Linked DNA regions of Homo sapiens. The protein of the gene in region 2 interacts with the protein of the main gene of each other region in a pairwise test. Each region holds a gene or a part of one and is shown on either strand. Other genes may lie near its edges.

What was found.
Region 1: the proteins of STRIT1 (region 2) and MTIF3 interact in binary tests that used the Homo sapiens proteins (3 or more experiments, as listed by UniProt).
Region 3: the proteins of STRIT1 (region 2) and TSPAN15 interact in binary tests that used the Homo sapiens proteins (3 or more experiments, as listed by UniProt).
Region 4: the proteins of STRIT1 (region 2) and CD53 interact in binary tests that used the Homo sapiens proteins (3 or more experiments, as listed by UniProt).

The regions. Positions count from the first base shown.
Region 1 is NC_000013.11:27,447,518-27,455,564, forward strand, and holds the start of MTIF3 (translation initiation factor IF-3, mitochondrial), read right to left. Parts: upstream 3,048-8,047; 5' UTR 2,992-3,047; exon of another isoform or gene 2,335-2,991; intron 1-2,334. UniProt on the Homo sapiens protein: IF-3 binds to the 28S ribosomal subunit and shifts the equilibrium between 55S ribosomes and their 39S and 28S subunits in favor of the free subunits, thus enhancing the availability of 28S subunits on which protein synthesis initiation begins.
Region 2 is NC_000003.12:155,290,658-155,297,761, reverse strand, and holds the start of STRIT1 (sarcoplasmic/endoplasmic reticulum calcium ATPase regulator DWORF), read left to right. Parts: upstream 1-4,078; 5' UTR 4,079-4,129; coding exon 4,130-4,142; intron 4,143-6,723; coding exon 6,724-6,818; 3' UTR 6,819-6,822; intron 6,823-6,915; 3' UTR 6,916-7,104.
Region 3 is NC_000010.11:69,447,568-69,454,464, forward strand, and holds the start of TSPAN15 (tetraspanin-15), read left to right. Parts: upstream 1-3,897; 5' UTR 3,898-4,027; coding exon 4,028-4,123; intron 4,124-6,897. UniProt on the Homo sapiens protein: Part of TspanC8 subgroup, composed of 6 members that interact with the transmembrane metalloprotease ADAM10.
Region 4 is NC_000001.11:110,897,148-110,900,422, forward strand, and holds the end of CD53 (leukocyte surface antigen CD53), read left to right. Parts: intron 1-661; coding exon 662-745; intron 746-1,976; coding exon 1,977-2,048; 3' UTR 2,049-2,775; downstream 2,776-3,275. UniProt on the Homo sapiens protein: Structural component of specialized membrane microdomains known as tetraspanin-enriched microdomains (TERMs), which act as platforms for receptor clustering and signaling.

The DNA.
Region 1 (8,047 bases), on a different chromosome or scaffold from region 2:
ATGTCAATTACTTATAATGCATAACTTTATAGTATGATATCCATTTTTAATTCGATGATTACTCAGACTTTATCTGAGTTTTGACAAGTGCATATACCTTTGTAACCAAAACTCCTATCGACAGAACATCACCATTATCCCAGGAAGTTCCCTCTTGCCATTTCCAAGTCAATCTCCATCCCCAAGAGGCAACTATTGTTCTGATTTTTTCCCATCAGTCTGTCCTAAGACTTCATATAAATGGAACCAAACAATATCTACTCTTTGTTGTAAGACATCTCAGCATGTTTCGAGATTCATTCACGTTGTACGGATCATTACCTTGTTCCTTTTTATTTCTAAGAAGTGTCCTCCAAGTATATGAATATATCGCAGTTTTTAAATCTAGTTTTCGTTAATGAACACCTAGGCTGTTCCCTTTATTTATTTATTTATTTTTGGCTCTTATGAATAGCTGCTGTGAACATTCTTGTACCAAAAAAAAGACAATTATTACTGCTCCAAAGGACAGCTGTATTCCCTGTATAATTCATTATTTTGCATTCTACCGGAAGTACTGATAAAATATTTGCAGGGAAACTTCCTGGAACATGATTTAAATATGTGGTTTAGTAGATATGAGGGGTGGGTGGGTGGGCATTCTCGTCCTATAAAAAATTGCTTGCATGCATTTGAAATCATGTGGACTGAAGAGACGAAAATAACTTCTATTATTTGTTCACTCACTGCTTTTCTCATACAGCTGATATTCACAAGCTCATACTGTTATCTGTTCTTTCCTGGGAGATTGGATCAAAGTTGCATAGATTCTAGCGGACTAAATATTTGTGAAATTAATTTTGCCAATTCTCATGACTCTAAGAACTCTTTTACACCTTCCAAAGAAGTTTCATAAAGTCCTTGCTTCTGCCTGCAAACTGTCCCAGTTGCCCCATTCTGGCCTGAGCAGTGCAGCCTTAATCCCAGAGGGCCTGCGCTACCGTTACTGGGCCTTCATGCTCCCCTCCCTTGGCTCTGGTTTTGCTCTTCCATAGGGAGCACAAAGTGTACTCTCCATAATGAGGCTGAGCTGTTTACGTGCTAGAACTCCCATTTAGAACACTGGAAAAAGCCAACATTATATCTTTGGCCAACTATTTAACCTTATTTCTTTAGCTATTAAATTGAAATAATAACCATATGTTTTAAAAAGCTTTTAAACCCAGAGCTAAAGACTCTGTATTAAAAACTGGACTTACGGCCGGGCACGGTGGCTCACGCCTGTAATCCCAGCACTTTGGGGAGGCTGAGGAAGGCAGATCACTTGAGGTCAGAAGTTCAAGACCAGCCTGGCCGACATGGTGAAACCCCATCTCTACTAAAAATACAAAAAAACTAGCCGGGCCTGGTGGCGTGAGCCTGTATTCCCAGCTACTTGGGAGGCTGAGGCAGGAGAATCACTTGAACCCGGGAAGCAGAGGTTGCAATGAGCTGAGATCGTGCACCGCACTCCAGCCTAAGCATCCAGCCTAGGCAACAGGGTGAGACTCTCAAAAAAAATTTTTTTTTAACTTATTCTCCTATGTTAATCCTATGTTAGTCTTCTTCCAGAACTCTAGTGATGGGATCACTACCCATCCACAACCTCCAGTCACCTCCAAGACACCTTTGACGCCTCCACTTTCCCAGTCAACCCAACACCAAGCCTCATCGACTTCATTTCCTAAACCCCACTCGAATCCATCCAGTCCTCTCCGTATCCACTGTCACCACCGTCAGTTTAAAACATCGACCACCTCGTTTGGATTCCTGCCAGTCTCCTAACTCGGCTTGAGCCCTGGCAACCAGTTCCCACTGCACTGCGGTCACTACACCCAGGACCTTCCTCACCTTAAATAAAACTGCCCCGAGATTAAAGATCTACACCTTCGCCAGGCCAAAAGGCCCTTCCCACCTCTCCAGTTTCTTCTTTATGCCTAGGCCACACTGGCCATTCGGTTTTTGAAATACAGTACTCTCGTCCTTGGTTTAGGAAACGCCAGATCCTTAGCGCATTCTTCTGATTACCTTCCAAACTAAGCCAGTTCTCCCATCCCTCCCCCAATTTACTGAGCTTAACACTGAATGCTTCTACAGTCCAGTTGACCTTTCCTTTAAAACATTCATTACAATTACAGTTTTGTGATGATCTTAGCACTGCTGTTCTCCATCACTAGACCGTAAACTCTACGAAGCAGGAACAAAATGGACTTATTCGTTACTGTGTTGTGCCTGACAGAATGAATAGTAGTCGATTTTCAGATTCTTCTCTCCATCCTCTACTTTTCTAAGACTTAGGCCTTTCACAACACGTACTTGAAACTGAGACTTCTCAGTAAGAGAACTTCGTTTACTTGGTTCAAGTCTTAAGCCACGGAGCCCACTAAATGACAAATGAGAAAAAAAATCCCAGTCACTTCGCGACCTTCCCCCATAAGGCCTCCTCCCGCAACAGCAGGCAGCAAGAACAACGCATTTGTCCAGCATGTCCTGCGCAGGCGCCCTTCGCCTGGCTCGCTCTGCCCCACCTGTGCCAGGCAGTAAGCCGCAAGAGCACTTCCGGGAGCCCCCGACCCGGTTGTTGGTAAGTCGGCGGCGACGCCCACCTGCAGAACGGGACCGGCGGAGCGCCAGGGCTAGAGACGGGACGTAGCGACGTACTGCGTGCGTGCGTGCGCACAAACGAGGGCGCGCATGTCGGGACGGAACTAGAAAAGCTCAGTGGGGCTGGCGGCAACTCTAGGTCTAACATCCCTCGGAAGTTCGTGCAGCGGCCTCGCTGAAAATGGCTTTACAGCCCGGCAGAACCCTCCGACTCCGCAGCAGGACCTGCGGAGCCTCTCCGCCCTCGGTACCGGCGGGACGGGGTAGCCCTGACCTTCCGGGTGCCTCCTCCACAGGGGCGCCCCCTAAGGCCACGCCCTCCCGATGCCGGTCCGCGCACCGCTCCGCACGCCTCATATTTAGCATTACCTGTGCTGGGGCAAGCGATTGACATACTGTAGCGGACGCAAGTACAGCGGATCTGCGGCGAGTCCCCTTCGCTCTCCGTAGTGGGCGGGGCTTCACCCCGCGTCCTTTAAAGGAAAGGTGATGGGCGGAGCCACGTTTTTCTACTGTTGGGATTCAGTTCCGCCGACAGAAAATGCGGAGAACGCGGAGGAAGTCCCTGAGGGGAAATTGCTGCTCACCTGGCTCCCGCTGCTCCGCAGGTGCGGTGAAGGCTAATGTCGAATTTCTGCAGCAATCGGAGCAGCCCTTACTCCAGTTACATTAACACCAATCTCGGTCTCCCACTAGGGCTTTATAAATTGCTTTCATAAACGTCTTTTTAATGTAACACTGAATAAAATGTTTTATAAGCGTCTTTTATAAGGATCGTAAGTGAAAGGGCGCTGTCTCCGATTTGCAGGTGAGCAGACAGCTTCGGAGTGAGAACGGCTCCCCGCGGGTCCCCGGTGGCGCGCGGCTCCCGGAGGCAAAACAAAGCTGGGGCCGGGGCGTCGGAGCCTCCGCGTTGTAGTTGGGAGAGGTTCGAACGGGGCCCCAGCTGGCGAAAGGGAAAACGGACCCGGACCCGGACCCGTGGAGCCTGCTCGAAAGCCGGGTGCTGGGGGTCTGGGCCCCGTGTCCCCCCTCTTTTTCTTCTTCAATAAGAAATTCCTCAAGGGCAGACTGCGAGTCCACAGTCGTGAAGCCACCTAATCTGGCTTCATACCTGGAATGTTTGGATTCCTGGTACGAAGAAAAACTAACATTTATTGGCTACTTGTCCACTGGAAGGCGTTGTCTTATTTCTCATTAACTCCTTGAGTCAGCATTACGTCTTTTATTACAGATGACACAACTACTAAAGCTTTAAATAGTTCTTTGGGAGCAAAGACGAAATCTCCATTTCCTTTTTAGCTGCTGGTAGCTCGACGCTCACTGTTAAAATAGGGAGGTAATGAAACAACTCTTGTGTGAGACCGAAAGTCCAGGTGTGCATCTTGGCCATTTCCAAGTTAATCAAGAAGAATTAAGGATTCATTTTATTCTATCAAAATTATTTCTCAATGCCAAGATATTTTGTGTGACGTAGATTCGGGGACAGACTGAGTAGCACAATACCTGGGAAAAGTTAGGTGCTCAGCAATTATAATTGCCCACATTTGTGATTGCTTTTGCCTATGTGCCAGACACTGTTCTACGCACTGAACATATCTCAAGTTATTCAATCTTCAGGACAACCTTATGAGCCAATTATTATTATTACCCATTTTACAGATGAGGGAACTGAAACAAATTTGCCCAAGGTCGCACAACTAGTAGCAGAATCAAGAATAAAAAAGCCAAAAAACCCCAAACCCAGGCAAACTTTAAATGTTCCTTGCATTGCTAGACTGAAGTAGTGAGAGAAACAGTAAACAGTACGAGTCCATGAAAACATTAAAAGGATGTGAAGTATGTACAAGTAACTGAAACATTTAATGCCCAAACTAAAGACTTAAAATTTGCTAAGGTAATAGCACAGGTAGATTCACACCAAGTAATCACTGGTAACTGAAGCTACCGGCCAGCATCCATTTGCAGTCCGTCTTTGAAGGCAGCTGTGTCCAGAGCAGGTGGTTTAGGAAGCTTTCTAGACTTCCATTGTCAGATGTCTCCACGCCTAGAAGATGGTGCTTTAGTGTTCCTGGGAGGAGACATGCAGAGATGGGGTGGCAATTACAGACATGCCCACAGATGGAGAGAAGCCATTTTTTTCATCTTTTCCCTTGAACTCTTCTTTGACCTCCAGCCGAAATGGAGCTTGGCAGCTTTTGTGGGGTTTTTTGTTTTTTTGTTTTGTTTTGTTTTGTTTTGTTTTTGGAGATGGAGTCTCTCTGTGTCGCCCAGGCTGGAGTGCAGTGGCGCGATCTCGGCTCACTGCAACCTCCACCTCGCGGGTTCAAGCGATTCTCCTGCCTCAGCCTCCCGAGTAGCTGGGATTATAGGCGCGTGCCACTGGGTCGGGCTAATTTTTGTATTTTTAGTAGAGACGGGGTTTCACCATATTGGCCAGTCTGATCTCGAACTCCTGACCTCAGGTGATCCACCCCACTCGGCCTCCCAAAGTGGTAGGATTACGGGTGTGAGCCACCACGCCCGGCCACTTGGAAGCTTTTAAAGAGTCATTGAGAGCCTTGAGCTGTGCTTGGTGGGGGCAGACTTTGAAGATCCTTGAATAAAGATGAAGAGGTTTGGGGAAATGCTATTACTATGCCACAGATCTTTAATAAACTACTCCGTTATGTACATAGAAGAGGACTCTGAGACATGTGTAGAGCTTTCCCAATTGTTATCGTTTCTACATATAATTTAACCCCCTCAAAAAATGTAACTCAATAAGACTCAAATCATGGTGACTCTAAAAATGCCTATATTTTCTATTACATAGTAATTTCTACGTTAATTTCCATAGCATGCCCATGAACTTTCTCTTTCAATGAATATATTGGTGATTTGCTCTGATGAAGGAATAATGGAAATATCCCGTCCCTCTCTTTGCCTGTTAGCTTTCCAAGTCCTCCCACTTTTCCCCAACGCCGAGGGGACCTTCCAAAACAGGATTGTATGTGAGATTTACTTGCTTAGCCCAAGGTCATTGAGGTACAACATATCTGATCCACAAAAGAATCAGTCTGTGGGTGATTTCTTTAAAAAGTTATGAACACTGGGCTGCGTCTTTATAATGCCACAATGACTAACAATTCATTTAAAAATCTAATACTAATAAAAATCCTGGTGGTGGTTGTTTTTTTGTTTTGTTTGTTTGTTTTTTGAGACGGAGTCTCACTCTGCTGCCGAGGCTGGAGTGCAGTGGCACCGTGTCGGCTCTGCAACCTCCGCCTCCTGGATTCAAGCAGTTCTCCTGCCTCAGCCTCCCAAGTAGCTGGGATTATAGGCACCCACTACCACGCCTGGCTAGTTTTTATATTTTTAGTACAGACGGGATTTCACCATGTTGGCCAGGCTGGTCTCGAACTCCTGACCTCAGGTAATCCACCTGCCTCGGCCCCAAAAAGTGCTGGGATTACAGGCATGAGCCACCATGCCCAGTCAAAATCTTGGGTTTATTTTGAAGATACGAAGCATCTTCAAACTTTAAAGCCCATGTGGGTTCAGATATTCAGCATATTCTTTAACAAATAATTGTTCATAGATTAGATACTCCTCCCTCTCCAGATTATAAACTCTTACCTGGGCAGTTTTGCTAAAATTGGGGGAATTTAAGTCTATTATGTGTGAGATCCTATGTAGTGCCAACTAAATGTAGCTGAGAGCAGTTATCTTAAACAGCAGCAACTCTGTCATTACAAGGCCAGTTTAATAGCCAAAAGGGTCCATGCTCTCCTTAGTTGATGTTTACAGACTTGTCAAGAGTCATAGAAACAAGGCATGCAAGAGGCTTTGGCTGAGTGTTAGGTAACTCGTTCAAAGCTTCCTGAAGATACTGTCAGCCCAATATTGTGTGTCTATTATTGTCTGTTAGAAACTATTAAAGCCGAAAGCCTTCTTATGAAATCTCTACCATTTTCCTCAGGCAGGACTATAATTAATCCATTCCAAACATGTAAAACATCTCTATATTTAAAACAAGCCAAAACAAAACTCGAGGCCAGGAGATTTAGCTTCTCATTTCAATGTTTTATAAGACGGGAGTCTTTTCCTTTACATAACCTAAATCCATCATGTTGCTACTTAGTCTGGTTCTGCAGTAGAGCTGGAGAACATCTGGTGACCACATCTGTGTTATAACCCTTTGTGTGCTCTCAAACTATTTGCTAGATTCAAAATAAATTTCCTTACCATGAGTGAGATTTCCCATAACATTAGACTCCAGATTAATCATTTCTCTTGTCAGAATATGATGGCCTCAGTTATTAAAACGTGGTGGTTGTGAATCAGCAAAATGTCTAAAATGAATGACATATTGTAATAAAGTTTTAAAAACTTTCATATCTGCCAAATAAAAATATTTGTATATGGAAGATCCACTTCTGTGAAAAGTCTCTTGTGCAACTGCAGAAGCAGAAAATAGGTTCAGAAGTTTCATTTGGAACACAACAGAGACATGTCTTTCCATTTCAGAGGTGTTGAGTTTTGAGGTGATTCAGTTAACTTTGATCGTTTTGAAACAATGAAAATAATTTCTATTACCATCATAGGACATCATGCAGAACAACAAAGAGCTAGTACAAAGTGTACCATGCTGACTGTTGTGTAGATAAAGCAAAACAGTACCAAATGATTAGTTAGCATTTTACATTTAGAATGCAACCCAGCCGGGCACAGTGTCTCATGCCTGTAACCCCAGGACTTTGGGAGACCGAGGCAAGCAGATCATGAGGTCAGGAGTTCAAGACCAGCGTGGCCAACATGACGAAACCCCATCTCTACTAAAAATACAAAAAAAAAAAAAAAAAAGAAAAAAGATTAGCTGGGCATGGTGGTGTGTGCCTGTAGTCCCAGCTACTTGAGAGGCGGAGGCAGGAGAATCCCTTGAACCAGGGAGGCGGAGGTTGCAGTGAGCCAAGATTGCGCCACTGCACTCCAGCCTGGATGACAGAGGGAGACTCCATCTCAAAACAAAAAAAAAAAAGAATGCAACCCTATACTATTTTTAAACACCTATGTGAGACGTAGTTACAAGGCTGTTTAAGGAGGGGAGGACTGACAGCAAATAGAATGTTTGTGATAAAATAAATTTGTGCTCTCACAGTTTCCCATCTTTGAGGCAAATGGAATTAAAGGCAAATTATTCCATTTTTGAAAGTTCCTCAAATGTGGAATTTCAGATGTTTACTGTATAGGGAAGTAGACTTTCAACTGTACATTGGAGTCATTGTTTTGCTGCTTTTTCACCTTGCAAGTTGCTAGGTTCTGCTGCAAAGATTTTTAAAGCCTGCTTTGTTAGCAGCCTAGGACACATCCATGACCTTACCAAAGTGAAAGTGAAAGCTCTTAGTTTTTCTTTTTTTTTTTTTTTGCAACAGTAAATCTACTA
Region 2 (7,104 bases):
GCACCCAACCTGTCTTTGGTTCTTGACCGTTATTTTGTGTCTAGGTATTGGTCTCTTTGGGTTTATTCTACCTAGAATTAATTGAGCTTCTTGAATATGTACGTTAACATTTTTCACAAATTTGGGAAGCTTTTGGCCATGATTTATTCAAATATTTTTTCTGCCCTTTCTCTTCTTCTTTTAGGACTCTAATTATGCATATGTTGATATGCTTGATGGTGTCCCACAGATCTCTAAGGCCATATTCATTATTATTTTTTCTTCTTGTTTCTTGTACAGGATAATCTCAATCAAACTGCCTTCAAATTAACTGATTCTTTCATCTGCCTGCTCAATCTGCTGTTGAGCCTCTAGTAAAATTTTCATTTCAGTCATTGCACCTTTCAACTTCAGAATTTGTTTGCTCTTTTAAAAATAGTATTTATCTGGCTACTGATATTGTCTTTGCTGAGATGGCATTCTTTTGCTTTTTTTAGTTATTTGAAAATACTTAAAATAGCTGACATAAAGTCTTTGTTAGTCAGTCTAATTTATAGACCTTCTCAGAAATAGTTATTTTTGATAGTTTTTTTATCCCTTTGTATGGGCATACATTTTTGTTCCTTTGCATATCTCATAACTTTTTTTTGTTGAAAGTTAGTAGTTTTAAATAATGTCAACTCTTAAATCAGATTCTACCTCCTCCCAAGAGTTTGTTGTCATTGCTGTTTGTTGTTGTTATTATTCTGAACTGATTGTGTACAATTTGCATTCTTTGTTGTATGTGACCACTAAAATTTTTGCTCAATTAGATTAGTTATCAACTAATGATTGGACAATGATTTCTTTAAATGCCTATAACTAGTATGCCTTCCAGACTTTAATGATGGGCTCTGTGTATGTGTTGAGGTATGCCTTTAACACTCAGCCAGGCAGTTGACAACTGCCTTACCATTTGCTTTCCATTTTGAGCCTCAAGGTTAGCCAGAGGTGAAAGCTTAGGGCCTTTTCAGGTCTTTCCTAAGCATACCCACAGCCATGAGGTCATGCCCATAGCTGAACATATGCATGTAGCCTTCTAGATTCTTAAGGATATGTGAAACTTTTCAAACCCCTATTGACATCTCATTCCCTAGATTCTCCTTTTAAGCTTTTTAGTTAGCCTATTGTTCACTCTGTTACCTAGGCAGCTGTGATGTTAAACAATTGCCTCTAATTGTTTTCAACAAATGCCCTGGGAGTGGGTACTTTTCACACAGTGGAAGTTCTGAGTCTTATCAAATAAAGACAGCCTTGCAGGTGAGGTCTTTGGGAGAACCACCAGACAGTTTAAATAATTACTGTTCTCTGAAACTGAGACTTTGAAAGAGTTCTGTTCTGCTCTGTCTCCTCTGGTGGCTGCTAGTCTGCTAGTTTTCACTGAGATTTTGGGATATTGTTTAAGGCTGCTACAAAGCTGGAGATGGGGGAGATGAGAATAGGCCAAATTAAAACATCACAAAACTCTTGCTGTTCTTACCTAGATTCCAGCTCCCCCAGTTGCTGTAAGTCCTTGGTTAATTTCTACAATTCTTAAAAATTGATTCAAAAATTTTAGATGGCTTTCTTGGTGCTCTTATGAAGGAAAGATATTTTGGAGTCCCCCACTCCTCTATTTTTGCAGATGTCACTTTCTTTTATTTGTTTATATTCTTATTTATAGATTATTCTAATGTTACTGGTAATTAAATACACTGTATTATCTATATATGCATATATTATAAGGCTAGAGTATAGTTAAGATCATTTTATTTCTTATTACTCTTTTAGGTATTGCCATAAGTAAACCTTTGTTTAGAGTGCAAACTAAGCTACCTTATACTGCACTTATTACATCCACCTACCCAGTCAGCCAGCCATGAAGCAAAGATCCATGAGCATCCACCATGGTCAGGTCTATGTACTATAATTCCAGACATTAGTAGTGAAAAATATTTGAAAAGTGAAGAATTCTTAAATATTTTAAAGAAAAACCAAATATTTAAATTTTTCGGCTCACATATCTCTGAAGAATCTAATGTCACCTTGAGAATAAGGGATTTGAGAGCTAAATGTTTAAGACAGTATGTAAAGTAAAAAAGTAGAAAATGTTCCTAATTAGTATGTCCTAAGAGAAAGATTAGAAAACGGTCAAATATAGGCCCTTGGGTTTATAAGCTCAAAGTGAAACCAGTCTATTAATGAATAAAACATCCTTTCCTGATTAAATATTATAAAACTTATATTTTTTAAAAAATTTACTGATGATATAACCAAGGAAATGAGATTCTAGGTTGAATTCTTTTCTGAAGTCTGAGAAATTCATGTTGATTAAGTTAGTTTTTTCTCTTCTTCTTTCCATAGAAAAGTAAGGAAAATAAATGATGAATTATAAACTAATCCCTCCTCAAACTCCAAATTGACAGCAATAATGTTAATAATAGTCAATTTCATGTCAAGAAGAAAGCTTAATATAATTGAAATGGAAATGAGTATTTAAAATGTAGAAACCTTTTCATATGTTTCAGGCAAATTATTTTATTTTATTATGTATGTTTGTGCTCTTTGTGGGTACCACACTGTTTGTTTTAAATATCATTTTTTTCCTTAAGATAATTAGTGTTCATTTGAACTTACTGAATTAACATTTTTTATATTTAAATGAGATCAATAACATTTTTATTTCTTCTCTCTCTTTTGGCCTCAGTTAACCTTTGTTTAACGTATTATTATTTAATATTGAAAAAAATACCCAACTTTGCCAGGTAAGCAAGGGATTTTGTTGCATAAACAATACGTAGTTTTTCTGCTTACCTGACATAGCCAGACATTTTTTCAATATTAAATAATATATTGAGAGAGAGACTGAGGAGAGAGATGACAACTTGACATAAATGATATAAATGTGCCAGATTCTTGGCTGCACACTCTAATCTATAGGTACATTATTTGAGGTAGAAAGTCAAATGTTCTTCTTGCCTGTGAGAGTGGGAGGATTCTGAATTCATATAATAGCAAGGAGTTCAGTGTCACTGAAGTTATCACTGCAAATGGAAGAGTAGAGAAATAAGGGTTTTTAGGTGTCTAAACAAAGAGTTGGGATTTTTATTGTCTAGGAGATGAAGAACTATTGGTGGATTTTTGAGCAGTGATGGAACATGGTCATTTGCAAGGCAATATCACTCTTGGAACTCTGTGGAGATAAATTTGATCAGGCCAGACCTGCCTTTACAGGTCTTAATCTTATGTCAAATTTTTTTTGGGAAGATGCTCACAGGGTCACTCTGCAAAACTTTTCCAGCCAGATCCCCAATTTAAAGTTATTCCAATGAGAATATAGAGAATAGTCTAGGTCAGTTACATAAACCAGTTTGGACTTTGAAAAATGAAATGTCCTATTTTTATACATTGCTAATAAAAACAACAAGCTTATGACTGCTTCCTAAAAATTCTAGGCGACGTCTGTATTGTTTTAGTTTCTAGTACATTTATATTAACACTTTTTGTTTTAGAATAGTTCAAAGAAAGGGGCACCATTTCATTTTATGTTTTCCACCTGTAAAGTAATAAAGAACTGTCTACATTTCATACAGACTTTCATTTCATCTTTATGCGACTCCCATGAGTAGGTATTATTATCCTCATTTTAAAACTAAAGAAGCTGATTCCCAGGTTAAGCAACTTGGCTTTCATTACAGAAAGAGCTGGAATTTGAACCCAAGTCTCTCCAACATCAAAATCCTTTCTTTCTAATATATCACCCTTCTCCTTGATAGCACTTGTATAGGTGGAATGTTGTTTTTCCTCTGTACACCTTCTTTATAGAACATTTTCTTCATGTTACCTAAAGGCATGGTGCAAATTAAAAACCTGCGAATATCTGCATTAGGATAATTCAGCTTACCTAATTGTTTAGGTCATGTAGCCCCTCGTTTCCTCCATAATAATAGAATAAAGAGCCAGAGGAGTTCTGCTTTCCCATGACTTACATCACTCTGCAGACAATTGGCAGCCAGGAGACGGGCAGCTGCCGCAATCTTCAGATTTCTCTCTATTTAAAGTTCAAAGAGACGCTGGATAACAAAAGAAAGAGGTAAGCGTGGCCTGACCTAGCCACCCACCAACAGGAATAATGGCTGAAAAAGGTAAGATTTAAGGCATAGGATTCTCTTGGCAAAAAAAAAAAAAAGGCTTCTTGACTTTGGTTCATTTATGTTTCTTGGTGTTTCCCAGTCACTCTAAAAAATGTGATATCTATGCTAAATGACCATTAACCATATATGTTAGTGTGGCTGCAAAAATGCATTAATTATGTAATCTATGGATCAGGTCTATAGGTTATGAATAATTTTAAAATGATCAACAAAGGAAAAGAGCTTAATTTTGTTAATACTTATTTTGAAAGGTGAGTTAGAAATCAGTTCTCCTGATTTCAATTCTGAGCCAGAATTGAAGACAGTTAAGTTCTGTGTCAGACCTGCTAGTAAATGGCTATGTGAGTTTGCAGAAGTCCCTATACCTCTCTGAGTCTGTTTTCTGACAGTAAAATGAGAATATTGGGCTCAGGCATCTATTCCACACCTAAAATTTTTGTTCCACATCTAACTTTTTTCTGGTTTTTAAACATTTTTTTGTATTTATATTTTATAGTTATATAAAATAATTGATTCCAATTTGTCAAAAAGTTGAATATATACTGTATCTAAGAAATGGTTTTTAAATATTAAACAGGAATTTTTGCTTTGAATCTTGACAATGACCTTGTGAAATATGCATATCATCATCATCCCCATTTTATAGATAAGAAAATGGAGACACAGCAGTTTAGTAACTTGTTCATGATCGCTAAAGAGTGGTGGCACCAGGTGTTTAACCTGGACAGTCTTTTCCAGAGCACAGTGTCCTCAAGAACACTTCCAGCTGTAACTACTTTGATATGCTCAGAACTGGACAAGAGAGAAGCATTTTAGAATTACACTTCATGTTTAAGAGATGTTTTGTTCTTATTTGTGCTAGTAATGTAAGTGACATATGCAAAGTATGTTGTGCTCTTACGTATTTCTACTTCCAAACAATTCCACAGGTATTAGTAAAGTTGAAAACATTAGTGTTAAAAAAACAATGGAATGTATACTTTGGGTGTTAAAATGCACAGTTAGTGCTACTGGTACTATTTTACAAGGAAAGTAAATAATGAGATACTTTTAGGGCTTTGTGATATGTAAATTTTATTAAAATATGCATGTATAAAATATAAATGCACAATTAAAGGGTTAATATTAATTTTCAAATTCTTTGAAATTGGGAAAAATATAAAGCCACATACCTAGACAGTTCAAAAAAATTACTGCTATGTACTTCCATTGTAATGGTACCTTAATTCATAAAAAGGCTTTCGTCCAAATGAGAGTAAAGGGCAACTCATGTTGTTTGCTTTATCCTTAAGCAATACCACATGTCAAGTAAAGAGAAGAGTTTTCCATTTAGTGCTTAATGCCTTATACAAGGTCACAGTGAGATGGAGAAACAAGAAAAGCATGTTGAATTTTGTCAGTTAAGAGAGACTCTAGCATTCTTGGAAAAATTGATTTAAAGTATTAAAATTTATTTCAACTTCAGAAAGTTTGCTTTTATAAAAGTGTCTTCTAATTTTAAATGTGTCTCATCTCCTGATGATTTTATTTTAATAGCATTTTTAAAAATTTCACATTTTAAAGTGATGGAAATTGTAATAGGAGTATAATTGCTAAGAATATGCATTCTCTCTTTTAACTAATGGCATAAGATCTAATTATGCTTTGCAGTTAAGAATATATCTGAGTCCTTAACACAGGGACATTAATTCCATAGAATGTTTTTCTGCGCTCTTTCTAAATCTTTTTGTGTGATGTAGGTGTGGATTTCTGTGTGTATGCCTGTGTATGTTTGCTTGAAAGAACAAGAGTTACATGCAGTGCATACTTTAAAAAAGATACTTGTATAAATTGCTTTTTACAGGTAAGAGTACAAATAGGAGGCACAGAAGGAATCATATATAACAAACGCCATTTATGTGTGTGTTGGATTATTACTGCCCATTGATTCAGGTTCAGTGCTGGTTGTTATACTGAACAATTTTTAAACAATAGAAATTCTTTTCTGTAGTCAAGAATGGTTACATAATGTATGATACTTTCCTTTTCCCTGTGATATTTAAAATTACATTCAGCTATTGAGGCCAAGGACAGTTCTCAATACCTTTCCTTGTGTTATAATTATTTACTTTAGTGGGAATTGCCTCAGAGTTGTATTAGATTGTTTTTTATATAAATAGCTGCTGTATATGTTATTGCACAAATGCATGAATGTGTTCTGTATACACTAAACACACACGGTGGTTAGAGTTTACAAAGCTTTGCACATATGTTATGTCATTTGATGTTCAAAACTATTCCAGGAGGTAGAGAGCACAAGTTTCATTATTCATATTTTACCAGTAGGAAAGTTCAAGCCCAGAATTGCCAAAGGTCACATAACAGTAAAAGACCCATGGTTTGATTCAAAATACCCAGGGTTTATGACAGTCTCACGTATTCTCTGTAGAAAAGAAAAAATAATTATGTATGGGTATAACTAGAGAGTGTATGCTTTTTTCTTAATGTTACCAAATTCCTTTTATTCTCTTGACACAGAAAATTTAATATGAAAATGACCAATATAATCTGTTTTCTACGGTTTATTTTAAAGCGGGGTCTACATTTTCACACCTTCTGGTTCCTATTCTTCTCCTGATTGGCTGGATTGTGGGCTGCATCATAATGATTTATGTTGTCTTCTCTTAGAAAGGTAAGGGTTTTAATAATTGAATGTTTATTTATAGTCTAAATTACTCCAGAAACAATCTTTTCTATTTTACTAATGGAATGTTTTGTCTTTCAGGCAAGAAGATATCAGATTGACATCATTTAGAAGAATTAAGAAAACTATGAACATGACTGATTATTAAATGTCTCATGTTAAACAATGCAATGTTTGACATCACTTTACAAACTTGGATCATAAACTGGCACTTTGGTATGCATAAGAATTTCTTCAGGACAATAAGAAATTATGAGTGAATTTCTCTAT
Region 3 (6,897 bases), on a different chromosome or scaffold from region 2:
GATATTTGCATGGGATACTGAGTGATTGTTCCAGACTCTGCATGCCTCTGAACTCCCAAGTTCATTGAAGTGAAGTTGGTAACTTAAAATCAGACATGGTGGAAGTATTTACTTTATGGAAATTGGAATCCCCCACACCAGCTAGTTTTTAAATATTTACCAGTATATCAGTGGATAGCTGAGTAAGTGACTTCTGGAATGTGGCTTTCTGGTAAGATGTTGGCTGACAACCTTACCCTCATGACTACCTCTGTACCAGTGATGCTTAATTCTGGTTGCACTTTAGAAATTACCTGGGGGAGTCCAGACACAATGGCTCATGTCTGTAATCCTAGCACTTAGGGAGGCGGAGGTGGGCTGATGATTTGAGGTCAGGAGTTCAAGACCAGCCTGACCAACATGGTGAAACTTGTCTCTACTAAAATACAAAAATTAGCTGGGTGTGGTGGCGGGGGCCTGTAATGTCAGCTACTTGGTAGGCTGAGGCAGGAGAATCACTTGAACCTGTATAGCGGAGGTTGCAGTGAGTCAAGATCACGCCACTGCACTCCAGCCTGGGTGACAGAGCAAGACTGCCTCTCAAAAAAATAAAAATAAACATAAAAATGAGAAATTACCTGGGGAGTTTAAAAATAATACTGATTACCACGTTCCTGTTGGTGGGGATTTTGACTTGACTGCAGTGGGGCTTGAATATCAGGATACATTTAAAGCTTACCAGGTGCTTTTAGTCTGCAGCTAGGGTTGCATTCACACCTGTGTGTCACACTATGCCACACATTCTAACAGTCCTACAAAAAAGTAATGGCAAAACCAGGATTTGCACCAGGCCTGCTGGCCCCTAGGCCAGAGTTCCTGGCTAAAGGAGGAAAAGTGGGAAACAGATGGCCATTTCTTCTGAGGTCTCAGTGTTTGCAAATGTGGTTCAGGAGGAGCCCTAGTGCTTGGGGTCAGGGTCAGGATTGCAGGTGGGGAGGCACAGTGAAGAAGCCCAGCAGCCAGGGAAAGGCTGTGCCAGCCCCAAAGAGCTCCAAGGCTCTTTGTAGGGATGGCTCACCTCGAGGGCTTAGGGAGAGCTGAGAGGGCTTGCTAAGAAGCTTGTGTGTCACCAGGGAATATTTGAAAGATGAGAGAAAATGCAGCTGGCTGGAGAGGCCAGAAGGGAAGAATAGAAGTCCAGGGGCAACTGGGAAGGAAACCTGATGGAGGTGTGTGGCAGTTTCGACTGTAGTTTAAATATGGAGAATGAAAGGGAACTAGGAGGCTAAACTAGCCTTCCAGGGTATGAAGAGGGTTCCAAGCTTCTATGGGTGGGGAAGAGACTAGCACCTCAAATAATGGGTGTGGACTTAGCTCTGCAGGGCTGGGTGGAGGCTCTAGCCCTCAAAGAGGAATAAAAAGTTAGTCTTCCTCCTCAAAGGACAGAAAGGACAACTTTTTTTTTTTTTGGGGACCGAGTCTCGCTCTGTCATCCAGGCTGGAGTGCAGTGGCACGATCTTGACTCATTGCAACCTCTGCTATCCAGGTTCAAGTGATTCTCCTGCCTCAGCCTCCCGAGTAGCTGGGATTACAGGCACCCATCACCATGCCCGGCTAATTTTTGTATTTTTAGTAGAGCCAGGGTTTCACCATGTTGGCCAGGCTGATCTTGAGCTCCTGACCTCGAGTGATCCCCCTGCCTTGGCCTCCCAAAGTGTTGGGATTACAGGTGTGAGCCACCGCGCCCGGCCAGAATGGACAACTTTTAACACTATGGTAAGATGCCTTCTTGGCCCTCAGATAATCATTTGAGGGCAGCTTGCATTACTCTCTGGTTCTCTTTCCACCTTTTCTTTTCCCTGTTGTTTTTTTTTTGAGACAGGGTCTTGCTTTGTTGTCCAGGCTGGAGTGCCGTAGCACAATCATAGCTCACTGCAGCCTTGATCTTTTGGGCTCGAGAAGTGATACCCCCACCTCACCCTCCCAAGTAGCTGGGACTACAGGCACGAGACACCATGCTTGGCTAATTTTTTTGATTTTCAGTGGAGATGAGGTCTTGCTACGTTGCCCAGACTGGTCTGAAACTCCTGGACTCAAGCAAACCTCTCACCTTGGCCTCCCAAAGTGCAGGGATTACAGGCATGAGCCACTGTGCCTGGCTCTGGTTCTATTTCTCTACCCCACACAAACATCCTCCCAAGGTTTGTTTGTTTTGTACCAGGAAATTGGTTTCCTTTTACCCTTCCAGGCATGGCACTGCCTCCCTCCCCACCCCCCAATCTTGCTTTCTTCCTCCTAGGGCAGAGCTCTGGGGGCTAAAGCCAGCCTGGACTAAGTCTCTGAGTCTGTCCTTCTCTGTTGAGTTTGTGTATGCAGGAGCCCTGGGAACCCAGGACTGGGGACTTGTATAAGAGTGTCGTTCCTGAAATCACCACCAGGGACCCCACCCAGCACTGCTAGAGCTTATGACCTCTGCCATGGATTTAATTACTGAAGGCCACAGCAGGGATTGTCTGGCTCCCAAGTCCCAGGCTGAGCTAGGCTTGGGAGACAGGAAACAACAGTGAGTAAAGCTGGGACCATCTAGCATGAGAGACAGGCTCACAGCCACCTCTGGTCCCAGGCTGAGAAAAGGCCAGGTGGGAGGAGGCTGGGTTAGTGGCTGGCTATGTGCAAGAGAGGGAGCTGCCTCCCTCACCTATAGTTTCTGTTTGTTTGTTTTTTGTTTTTTTGAGATGGAGTCTCCCTTTGTCACCCAGGCTGGAGTGCAGTGGCGGGATCTCGGTTCACTGTAACTTCCGCCTCCCGGGTTCAAGCGATTCTCCTGCTTCAGCCTCCCCAGTAGCTGGGACTACAGGCATGCACCACCCTGCCCGGCTAATTTTTTTTGTATTTCTTAGTAGAGACAGGGTTTCACCACGTTGTCCAGGCTAGTCTCGAACTCCTGACCTCAAGTGATCCGCACGCCTTGGCCTCCCAAAGTGTTGGTATTACAGGCGTGAGCCACCGTGCCCGGCCTTGTTTTTGTTTTTGTTTTGGAGAGAGGGTCTCACTCTGTCTCCCAGGCTGGAGTGCACTGGCACAATCACGGCTCACTGCAGCCTTGACTTCCCTGACTCAAGCGATTCTCCCGCCTGTCTCCCAAGTAGCTGGGACAACAGGCGCGCCACCGTGCCTGGCTTTTTATTTTTTTTAATTATAGAGTCGGCGTTTTGCCATGTTGCCCAGGCTGGTCTTGAACTCCTGGGGCTCAAGCCATTCGCCCTCCTCAGCCTCCCAAAGTGCTGGGATTACAGGCGTGAGTCACCGCGCCAGGCCTTCAACCTAGTTTGAAGATGGGGTTTCCCGGGAGGAACCCTTCCCAAGGCTGGGTTATCACCTGGCAAAAGAAGGGGACTTCCGAGGTCGTTTGGTGAAGGCCTTCAGCAGATCTGTTTCACGAGCAAACTTCAGACTCCAGCTCCATGGGGGCCTATTAGCCCCACCCTGGTCTGCCTCCCTGAGCCTTCCTGAGCCGAGCAACTCCACTTCCTTATTCCATTCACGTTTAGCACACTCATTTGCACTTTCAACACCTGGGCGATTAATTCTTGCCCTTTTCCCAAAGTTTTCCCTCTTGACAAGAGGAAAGCTTGCATTTCTATGTACCCCGATTAGGCACGCTCGCTCTCTCCTTAGAGCACCTCTGGTTCACCTCTCCCACGCCCCCTGCATTAGCACAGGCGTTTCCAGAGTTGCACGCGAGCTCATTTGCAAGACCGTCTCCCCCTCCCATCCCTTCTTGGTCCCCTCTAGGGCCCAGGGCAGCAGCCCCGCCCCTGGCCCGCCCCCTCCCAGACGCTAGGCAGCCGCGGCCTCCCATTGGCCGCCAGGGCTGGCAGGCTTCCCGGCTGGGGCTGTGATTGCCGCGCTCCAGTGTCAGTCCCGGAGAGAACGCCGGTGGCGGGGCTGGTAGCCCGGCAGCCGCAGGTGGGGCCACGAGCGCTGGCTGAGGGACCGAGCCGGAGAGCCCCGGAGCCCCCGTAACCCGCGCGGGGAGCGCCCAGGATGCCGCGCGGGGACTCGGAGCAGGTGCGCTACTGCGCGCGCTTCTCCTACCTCTGGCTCAAGTTTTCACTTATCATCTATTCCACCGTGTTCTGGGTGAGTGACCCCAGTAGGGCCCGGGGATGGGGGTGGGGACCCACAATCCGGCCGCCCCCTCACTGGCCCGGGGTTGGGTCCACACTTAGCCGCTCCAGGGAGTGCGCGGGTGAGCGCGCGCGGACTCCTTGTCTTTCTACCTCACATTCGGGCGGCCAGAGCTCAGCCTGAATTTTCAGCCGCCCTTTCGGGAGTGTGAGAGCCGGTTGTCGACCGACCGAGTGCCACCTGGCTCACCTGTGTGCACCGGCTGGGCGGTTTGCCCGCTGTGCGTCCGCTGGCCGGCTGGCTAGGCTGAGGTGAACGCGCTGGCCGCGCCCACCACGCCTACCCGGTAGGACTGACTGCCTCTGCATCGGCCTGTGGAGCTTAAGTAGTTAGGATTTGCAGTCGGGGTTGGGAGACCTGGATTCCGGGTCTGGTCCCTGCTAGTTACTTGCTGATGCCCCTGAGCGAGACGCTTCCCCGCTCCGTCTTGGTTTCCTCTTTGGTGGATGCACGTGCCTCCTGCGTGGCGAGGAGAAGTCCACCAGACGACGTCTCCTGCACACCTAGGTGCTCAGTTTCCGCTGTCGCTGGGCTTTACCTCCTCCTCTGCCTTGTTAGGGGGCAGGATGGTAGTGTTTAGACATGAACCAAGCTTTGAATTCCGTCGCTCCGAGTGGTCTTTTATTTTATATTTTATTTTTTATTTAAAACATTGCTAATCTCTGTATCGTTCCAATTTCAGTTTGTGCGTTTCTGAAATGAGCACTTGCTGAGTGATCTTGGGGAAGTTACTTCATTCCTCTCGGCCATGGTTTCCTCATCTGTAAATGGACACAGTAATTATATTCAACTTGTAGGATGCTCGCGGAGATTACGTGAAATAGGCCGGGTATGGTGCCTAGTGAAGAGCTCAAGAAGTGTGAGACATTATTACTATCGTGGGCAGGGAATTTGGACACCTGTGGTGTAAGCTGCCCCAAGAGATTGGGTTTCTGTAAGGGCGTTTCATATTAGGCTGGGCCCTATTCTAGAGATGAGGATATCTTCCTATAGGCCAGCTCCGCCCCTGTCACTCCAGAATCGCTCTCTGCCTGCAGTATGCCACAAGAGCAGACTTGCCCAGGGACCCAGGGTGGTCACTGACACCCCATTCCCACCAAATACACACACTCTCCCCTGGTGTCCTCCTTAGCCCCTTGCTGGGTCTCTTCTGCTAGCAGGAGCTGCTGGATTTGCCATCAGGACTGGCTTTCCCTGTGACCCCTTTGTGGGTGGGGCCTTGCCTGGTAATCGGAGATCCAGATTCAGCTCTGTTACTGACTTATGGATATCTTAGGCAAGTCACTTTCCTGTTTTGGGCCTCAGAACTGTTCATTGACTTTTCCATCTAGAAGACTAGTCTGAGGCCAGTTTCCAATCCAATTCTCTGACTCTAGGTAATGTGGAGGAGAGATGAACAGTATGTTTGGGGGGCGGAGGATGGAGCAAGGACCTGTTGGTGGAAGCTCTAGGGAGACAGAAGGTCATATGTGGGATGGGAGTGGGGGTGATTTGAGCTATAAATCAGCGGTTGCATCAGATTCTTGTGCCCTGGCATAGGTATTTATTTAAATTTACATAAGCTTAATTGTAGTAAATTACTTACTAGAATTAAGGTAATTCTAGTGTGCAGTCAGTATTGAAAACTGCTGCCCTAGATGGTCTCATAGGTCCCCTAAGTCCCCAGGATTTCTGTGCCTGCCCCTTGTGTGTTCTGTGAGCCCTTCTCTCTGTAAATCAGAGTTGAAAGAGCCTAAGGTTGATGGGTGGGGAGGTAGGAAGATGGAGTTGTATTTTGGGCTTCACCCCTTCCCCAGATATATAATCACAAACCAGTCTCTCTACCTCCTCACGTTTCCATTTTCTCATCTATAAAATGAATAAGTGAATCTCTGCCCTGTACCTCACTGAATTGTTTTAGGATTAGTGATATGGGGAAAGAGTGACATATGAGCAAAATCAGTGCAGTACAAACATACCTCATGCAGTTAAATAAAACTGAACTCTAATTTTTAAGGCTTTGTTCTGTCACTGTCCTTTGCAGCCCCCAGAGAAGCCCACCCAATGGCCCTTGCCTTGCTTCTCTTGGGCAGGGTGGTTCTCAGAACTTGGAATCCCTCCTCTGCCAACTGAGGTTGCCTTACCAAATCCTTAACTCCCATCCCTGGAAGTATTTCTGTTTAAAAGTCTCTACACCCATGCCAAGAACTCAGCCACCTGCCAACTCTGCCAGAGCAGCTCCAGGTGCCAGAGTTTGACTGCAGGGCAGGGCCCAGTGTGAGTAAGTAATCTGTCCTGGACCAGGTTTACTGTTATTTGGAAACCATTTACAGGAAAGCCTATTATCTCTGGTGCCATCTCTGGTGCCATCTCTGGGGTTGAGGGAAGGGTTACTTGCTTTGTAAGTCCAAACTGCTAGCAATTTGCATCTCAGTTTTTAGGTCTGGAGGGCCATAAGTTTTATGACAGCCTTGTACCTTCTGTAAGACTTTTTGCTTACTTTAAAAATTACTACTGGGGCCGGGCCCGGTGGCTCATGCTTGTAATCCCAGCATTTTGGGAGACTGAGGCGGGAGGATCACCCGAGGTCTGGAGTTTGAGACCAGCCTGGCTAACATGGTGAAACCTCATCTCTACTAAAAATACAAAAATTAGCCAGGCGTGGTGGTGTGTGCCTGTAATCCCAGCTACTCGGGAGGCTGAAGCATGAGAATTGTTTGAACCCAGGAGGTGGAGGTTGCAGTGAG
Region 4 (3,275 bases), on a different chromosome or scaffold from region 2:
AATGAATCATAGGTGAAGGAGTAAGGAGTTGAGGGAGACAGAGTTAGTGGAACTACTGAAACAACCTGTCCAATTAATTTGGACCTCCAGAATAGGCTCTGAGAAGAAGCCACAACTATCTTCCAACTAGACCGAATCCCTGAGGTCTTGTCTCCTCATGTTATCTGCTCCTGAAGGGGTTTGGAAATCTCCAGGGTTTTTCAGGTTTGTGGAGAAAGACTAGGACAACCACTGACCAGCAACTGCCCTGGCACTTGGTAGGGCTATGATGGATTTACTGAATGTTGAAGCAGAAAGTGAAATGCAAACCAATTTTAGTATTGCATGCCCTATGTTAATCTCTGGTCAGCACTGAGTGTTCAAAGACAGTAGGACGTCGGTTGCTGACCTGCCTCTTAGAAGCTAGTTTAACTCAGCGGGTAAGGATCTAGGACTTCTACATTAGTTACCACTGTAATGATAACACCACCAGAAAAGTCTGTAGTTTAATATTTCCCACCTTATGCCTGTTTCTTCATTCACGCAAAGAAAATAAAAATATAATACCTAAGCCTCTTTGTATTACATAAAGCAAAATGCAAAGCACTGTATCTTCCAAATACTTCCTCTTGATATGGTGGAATTATAGAGTAGTATCATTTGTAACTGAAATGTCTTCTAGGGTTGCTATGCGAAAGCAAGACTGTGGTTTCATTCCAATTTCCTGTATATCGGAATCATCACCATCTGTGTATGTGTGATTGAGGTAAGAGCTTAACCACAGGGTTATTGTGAGGATTACATGAGTTAAGTCAGGTAAGATTTCAGAATAATACCAGGTACACAGTATTTACACAATAAATGTTAGCTATTTTTACTAATATATGAATTCCCCCAGCCAAGTAGCAAATAATGTAATTAACAATTTGCTTTAAGGTATATAGAAAATGTGCTATAAGAACATCTCTTGGCCGGGCGTGGTGGCTCACGCCTGTAATCCCAGCACTTTGGGAGGCTGAGGCAGGCAGATCACGAGGTCAGGAGATCAAGACCATCCTGGCTAACATGGTGAAACCCCGTCTCTACTAAAAATACAAAAAATTAACCAGACGTAGTGGCAGGTGCCTGTAGTCCCAGCTACTTGGGAGGCTAAGGTAGGAGAATGGCGTGAACCTGGGAGGCGGAGCTTGTAGTGAGTCAAGATCGTGCCACTGCACTCCTGCCTGGGCGACAGAGCGAGACTCTGTCTCCAGAAAAAAAAAAAAAAAAAGAACATCTCTCTGGTCAATTCATTCCTCAGAGATATGAGTGATTCACATGATTCACAGTCAAACAAAAAAGCCACCAAGCAGAATCCCACTGTGATCCCTCCTCAGCTGGTCTGAAAAATACGAATTGATAAAGTATTTCATTTGAAAACCTGATCTTGCATGTTAAGGGGCTGATGACGAAAATTGTAATCAATTTCCTCTTTGTTTCTGTGCTTAGTTTGACAAGTGATGGGTGAATTGAGGGTAGTTTTTTGTCCTTTTTAATAAAAAAGGACAAAAATAATGTGATATTTCTAACATTTTTCTACCCAAAGTGTTGGGTATATCATAGATTAGTTAAAACTCAATCAGGAAGCTCAGAGAAAATGATTTTTCTCTGTTTGGAAACAAAGGAGGCACAGAGCATGGATAGAGATAACTCATTGCACAGTGTTCAGTGAGCAGAATATGACCATCCTAGCAGCAAGGCTTCTGTGACTTCCTCAGAAGATAAAACATGCTCCAGTACTTTACAGCCTGTTATCTTGTCATCATTGACCCCGTTTCTCTCCTCACTGCTATTCTTTAACCAAAGGAAAGAGCTCCTGAGAGAGACTTGAAAGTAATGGTTGGAAGGGTGGTTTCAGTGTAATGGATACATTCTTTTTCTCAGAGGCCAATCCCAGGCATTGTGAAAGAAATGGCTTTTCTTATGAAGACTTCAAATTTTCCCAACTCTTTTCACAGGTGTTGGGGATGTCCTTTGCACTGACCCTGAACTGCCAGATTGACAAAACCAGCCAGACCATAGGGCTATGATCTGCAGTAGTCCTGTGGTGAAGAGACTTGTTTCATCTCCGGAAATGCAAAACCATTTATAGCATGAAGCCCTACATGATCACTGCAGGATGATCCTCCTCCCATCCTTTCCCTTTTTAGGTCCCTGTCTTATACAACCAGAGAAGTGGGTGTTGGCCAGGCACATCCCATCTCAGGCAGCAAGACAATCTTTCACTCACTGACGGCAGCAGCCATGTCTCTCAAAGTGGTGAAACTAATATCTGAGCATCTTTTAGACAAGAGAGGCAAAGACAAACTGGATTTAATGGCCCAACATCAAAGGGTGAACCCAGGATATGAATTTTTGCATCTTCCCATTGTCGAATTAGTCTCCAGCCTCTAAATAATGCCCAGTCTTCTCCCCAAAGTCAAGCAAGAGACTAGTTGAAGGGAGTTCTGGGGCCAGGCTCACTGGACCATTGTCACAACCCTCTGTTTCTCTTTGACTAAGTGCCCTGGCTACAGGAATTACACAGTTCTCTTTCTCCAAAGGGCAAGATCTCATTTCAATTTCTTTATTAGAGGGCCTTATTGATGTGTTCTAAGTCTTTCCAGAAAAAAACTATCCAGTGATTTATATCCTGATTTCAACCAGTCACTTAGCTGATAATCACAGTAAGAAGACTTCTGGTATTATCTCTCTATCAGATAAGATTTTGTTAATGTACTATTTTACTCTTCAATAAATAAAAGTTTATTATCTCAATCACAACATTGCTATATATCAAACACTCCTTCCATGACCCAGCCTGATTACCCTGATTAATGCACCAAACCAGGTGTATTAATTGTCTCCTGCTGCATAAAATATTACTCCAAAATTTAGTGGCTGAGGACAACAAACATTTATTATCTCATGGTTTTTGTGGGTCAGGAATCTAGGAGCAGCTTAGCTGGGTGATTCTGGTTCACAGTCTCTCATGTAACTGCAATCAACATGTCAGCCTGGGCTGCAGTAACCTTAAGGCTCAACTGAAAGAGGATCTACTTTCAGGCTCTCTCACATCGCTGTTGGCAAGCCTCAGATCTTTGCCACTTGTGCCTTTCCACGGGGCTTCCTTATGACATGGAAGCTGGCTTCCCCCCATTTAAAGACATCCAAGAAAGGGCATGAGATTCGGCACCCAAAACAGAAGCCACAGTTTGTTGTTTTTGTTGTTGTTGTTTTGAGATGGAGACTTGCTTTGTCACATAGGCTGGAGTGCA